2 separate regions of the Homo sapiens genome follow, and region 2 is linked to region 1. Evidence: fine-mapped expression QTL. Tissue or cell type: whole blood. Region 1 holds a variant in brackets; the other region holds the start of a gene. All regions are shown on one strand. Distances are between the middles of the regions.

The links. PIP is the estimated chance that this variant, and not a neighbour inherited with it, causes the effect.
Region 2: it holds the start of MEF2C, and the variant in region 1 is fine-mapped to the expression of MEF2C in whole blood (TOPMed, PIP 0.94).

What each region holds. Positions count from the first base shown.
Region 1 is chr5:89,417,523-89,420,210 of GRCh38, reverse strand. All of the region lies in intron 8 of MEF2C-AS1 (MEF2C antisense RNA 1), which reads right to left. Among named protein-coding and RNA genes, the nearest start is that of LINC02161, 160 kb to the left of the region's middle. The variant T/A (reference allele first, on the strand shown) is at 1,479.
Region 2 is chr5:88,881,825-88,884,512 of GRCh38, reverse strand. It overlaps MEF2C (myocyte enhancer factor 2C), which reads left to right and starts at 1,329. Exons shown (of 11, transcript NM_002397.5): 1 at 1,329-1,558. MEF2C-AS1 (MEF2C antisense RNA 1) reads right to left here and starts at 1,183. Exons shown (of 10, transcript NR_136219.1): 1 at 1,028-1,183. RefSeq lists an enhancer at 222-271.

The sequences.
Region 1 (2,688 bases):
TTCTGGAGAGGCATGCTGCCAGAAGTTGTTGTTCTAACAAGGGGAGGAATGAAAGGTACTACGGCAGATACAACTTGAATTCAGAGAAATTGGCTCAGTAAAATCAATTTAATGTGTGCAGTATAGGAAATATTATGTTGAGGATAGCCTGAACATTCCAGCCCCTAATATGTCTAATAATTTCAGGGCTAGAAAAAGAAAACAGATGCAAAAATCCGCCTGAACCCTAAACTCAATTTGGAGAATTTAAGAGGAAAGCAGGAGTGAAATGCTCATCTCCAGCTGACATACTCCTTGTTTTCAAATACGGAAGATCTACCCTGCTATTAAATAGAGCATTCTTTACTATGCAGATTATGAGAAGAGGAATGGAAGTATCTCCCCAAGATAGCGTGCTCCCTAATTCTAACTCCATGTGATACTTCATGTTGAAAATCTTGCTATTGGTATAATGCTCTCACATAAGAATGAAAGTTTCAGCATCACAGAAATACAACAGACAGTTTCCTTTGTCACATCACTAAGCCATTCCTTGAGTTTGTAGTTGAATCTTGAAAATTTTTCTTTCGCAGTGAATGGCACCAGTGGAATTTTCTCCAACACCAAAGAGAGCCATAAACCTAGCACTTGTCACAAAATCTCAAATCTGTCTACCATTAGACTAGATCTCTAGAGATTAGCCAAAGAATCACAAGAAGAGAGGAAGAACAATAATAATAACTTGACTTAGTAAAATTTTAAAGAACCAGAAAAAATAATTGGGAGAAAAAAAAATGCCTGTGCTATTCCTGATACAGAACAATCACACAAAAGTAGATTTTGAAAACAGCTGGTATTCTTTTATACAGAAGAAAATAAAGCATAGTAGCTGCAAAACAAAAACTGAACCAATTAAACCTTGTTAAAGAAAAATCTAAGTCATCAATGAAAATAACTAAGTAGTGAAAATCAATGACTCGAACGACCACTCAATGAAACAGGAAATAAAATTAAGCAACATGCAAAATGGAGAGAAGATCATTAATTTTCTGAGCTTAAAAAAAGAGGGAAAAATGGTAGACATGGAAGAATATCACCGTTTTTTAAATGCCTAATGAAACTACATTACTGGGCAATGATTACCAGCGCTAATCAACATCACACATTGAGATACCCAGAAATTGTATGCCTCATGAAGGAAGTACACAATACCAGCTATGGAGAATTCTTGTTGAAAACAAAGTTCACTCTGATTGAACCTATTAGTCTGTTCTTATGCTGCTAACAAAGGCATACCTTAGACTGGGTAACATAAACAAAAGAGGTTTAATTGACTCACAGTTCAGCATGGCTGGGGAGGCCTTAGGAAACTTACAATCACGGTGGAAGGGGAAGCAAACATGTCCTTCACATGACAACAGGAAGGAGAAGTGAAGGGGAACTGTCCTTTAGAAAACCATCAGATCTTATGAAATGTATTCGCTATCACAAGAAGACCA[T/A]GGGAAAAAGCCACCCCCATGAATCACTTACCTCCCACTGGGTCCCTTCTACAACACATGGGGCTTATGGGAGCTACATTTCAAGATGAGATTTGGGTGGGAACACAGCCAAACCATATTATTCATCCCTTGGCTCCTCCCATATCTCATGTCTTCACATTTCAAAACCAATCATGCCTTCTCAGCAATCTCTCAAAGTCTTAACTCATTTCAGCATTTACTCAAAAGCCCACAGTCCAAAGTCTTATCTGGTACAAGGCAAGTCCCTTCCACATATGAACCTGTAAGATAAAAAATTTAAAAAAAGTTGGTTACTTCCTAGATACAATGGGGGCTGGACATTGGGTAAATACACCAGTTCCAAATGGGAAAAATTGGTCAAAACCAAGGGACTACAGGCCCCATGCAAGTCCAAAATCCAATAGGGCAGTCATTAAACTTTAAAGTTCCAAAATGAAATCCTTTGACTCCATGTCTCACATCCAAGTCAAGCAGACACAAGAAATGAGTTCCCAGGGCCTTGGACAGCTCCATCCTGTGGCTTTACAGGGTACAGCCCCCTGTCCAGACTGCATTCACAGGCTGGTGTTGAGTGTCTGCAGCTTTTCCAGGTACACGGTACAAGCTGTCAGTGGATCTACCATTCCGGGGTCTGGAGGACAATGGTCCTCTTCTCACACCTCTTCTAGGCAGGGCCCCAGTGGGGACTCTGTGTGGGGGGCTCCAACCTCACATTTCCCTGCTGTACCACCCTATCAGAGGTTCTCCTTTAGGGCTCTGACCCTCCAGCACACCTCTGCCTGGACAACCAGGTGTTTCCATACATCCTCTGAAATCTAGGCAAAGGTTCCCAAACCTTAATTCTTGTCTTCTATGCACCTGCAGGACCAATACCACATGGAAGCTGCCAAGGCTTGGGGCTTTCACCCTCTGAAGCAAAGGCCTAAGCTGTACATTGGCCCCTTTTAGCCATGGCTGGGGTGGATGGAATGCAGGTCACCAAGTCCCAAGGCTGCACACAGCAGGGGAGCCCTGGACCTAGCCCAGGAGACCATTTTTTCACCCTAGGGATCTGGGCCTGTGATGGGACGGGCTGCTGTGAAGGTCTCTGACATGCCCTGGAGACATTTTCCCCGGTGTCTTGGCAATTCGCATTTGACTCCTCATTGCTTATGCAAATTTCTGCTGCTGGCCAAAATATCCCCCCAGA
Region 2 (2,688 bases), 540 kb after region 1:
ATGAAGTCGAGATCTCAAATACTGGTAATTATTTTATTATTTCGTACATTACTAACATTAGAGAAACCTTTCGGCTCGCTTTCTAGCGCTCCAACCTCTCAGGGTGAAAACCGCGACTTCTGGGCGTGCAGGAAAAGCACGCTGGAATCGAGTGCTGCAGACATCCTGGACCGTGGTTTTTACGCGTGAGTAACGGAGGAGCGCACCGACCGGTGGAAGAGAGAAGTGGCTAACGCGTGTCCAAAAGGGGGAAAAGTCACAAGAGCAACTATTAGGGTCGCGCTCCTATTGGTCAGAGGAAAGATCCCGACTTTAGAAGGACTTTCCTGCTGGCTGGCTCGCAGCGTCCCCGGAGAGCAAGCGAGCGCGCCGCAGCGGGAGACTAGGTTCTCTCCGAGCGTCCTCCGCAGAGGCGCCGCGAGAGGAGCAGGGAGCCGCAGCTCGCCGTGTTGTCTTCATTTCGTGCAATAAAGAATTGTCATTAGGTTTGCGTATGGCATGTGCTATTACCCCACCGTAAAACTAAAATTAGCAAAATGTCAGGAATGGAAAGATTGATTCACCAAGATGCAATTATCATTTAAAAGTGCTTGATTGAGGTACTGATGTTCAGTGATTTATTCTGCATACCATATACATAATTAAAGTAGTGTAGTGGAGTAATTTATCAATCTAGTTGAGACTGGAGGGGTGAGGAGGGAGCTGCTGTATGTTTGTTTTATTAAAATGCTCCGAGGTCTAGTCCCGCCCCCCTTTTGCAAGAGTGAAACTGATGATTTCTCCAGCTCGCGAGGAAAGAGTCAACGGTTTGGGATTGTGGGGGAGAGAGAGACGGAGAGAAAAAGGCAGCGCGAAGCAAAGGCAAGGACAAAATTAAATAAAGGGGGAAAAAAGGAGGCAAAAGACATTTCATCGGACGTGCTGCTTAGAACCCCAACCATTCGTGCTCCGTCTTCCCTACCACCCCCGCCTCCCCTCCCAGTATCCTTCAATCCCCCCCGCCCCCACCACCCCCAGTCTTTTTTACGCGATGTTTCAAACGCTGTGAGCTGTTCTCCTTTTCCCATTCGTCTTCTGTCACTTCCTTCCTGGACGCAGTTTTCTGGACGAGTCTGGTTACTTTTAATCCGACCGGCCGCTGAGAGCCACTTTCTCCTCCTCCTCCTCCTCCTCCTTCTCTTCCTCCTCCTTCTTCCTCCTCCTCCTCCTCTTCCGAGCGGCCTCGGCGCGCGCGAATGCGCGGCCCCGCGCCCCCCCCCTCGCGCGCGCTCCCCTCGCGCGCGCGCACACACGCACACATCGTCTCCAGCTCTCTGCTCGCTCTGCTCGCAGTCACAGACACTTGAGCACACGCGTACACCCAGACATCTTCGGGCTGCTATTGGATTGACTTTGAAGGTTCTGTGTGGGTCGCCGTGGCTGCATGTTTGAATCAGGTGGAGAAGCACTTCAACGCTGGACGAAGTAAAGATTATTGTTGTTATTTTTTTTTTCTCTCTCTCTCTCTCTTAAGAAAGGAAAATATCCCAAGGACTAATCTGATCGGGTCTTCCTTCATGTAAGTACCCCTGATATTTCTCGAGGAAATAGAAAACCCGGGTATTGTCTCTAAAATCTGCATCAATATATTCCACGGCACTGTGTCTATCTATCCCTGTGCCTTTTTTGAAGGCTGAAGTTGAGGCTCGTTGTGCATTCTTTTTCGTTAGATTCCATGATTTCCTTGTTTGTTGCTAAAAGTAACTTTTTAGATAGTCGTATCCGTTTGCCATCAGCTATTGAAATCACTCCTGACTCGTTCCTGTCACACCAGTGTATTTAAAGTTTCATGAAGTTAGTTCACGTCATTAGCATGTTTGATATGGTGGAGCGTGTGGAGCCTGGTGGATTTTAATATTTCACAGCATGTTCTGTGACCTTGAAGTAGACGCCTTAAGATTTAGCAGTTAGTTCACTGTGGAAAGATGCTCCCATGAGTCCCCCCAAAGACACTGATTTGCCCTGGGTTATGCTTCTGAGCCACTAATTCTTGGGATTAGTTTGACCTAAAGCATGGCTGTCTGTCAGAGTATACCTTTGTGCATTTCCTTCCCTCACCAAAGTGCCGGCTTGACAGAGGGCTTCTTAATTGGTGTGGACAAAAAGTAATATCCCTGCCATAGTAGTCTACACATTTCACAATTCACGTTCGATTTCAGCATATGGATTGCTGTTCAGGTCAAGTCAAATACATAGCTGTTTAAAAGCAAGCAAGGTTAAGTCACTTAAATTGCCTTCTCTTTGGACTTGGAATGAAAGTTACCAAACTCGATGATAAAGTTTGTCACAAAGGAAGTATATATAGATGTGGCACATTGTTTATTTTATTATTAAATATTGTGGAAGTATTTAAATTTAATGCTAATGTTACCTTCCTTCCCTGAACATGGCTATTGCTTTTTAAAGGAAATTTTATATCTGAATCACTTCTGACTATTCTAAGTCCAGTAGTTATCATTCTTTGGGGAGAGCCTTTTTTTGTCACATTTTAGGAATGCGTGTCTTTTGTATAAAATACTTTATATGTAAATGCTGACAGTAGACTAAGTAGAATTGGGCTCTCTGCCAGTTCCTTAACCGGTCCTCAGTGGAGAATTGCTTTGACACAAAGTGCGTTTTACTATTGTGAATCTGAAACTAACTCTAATA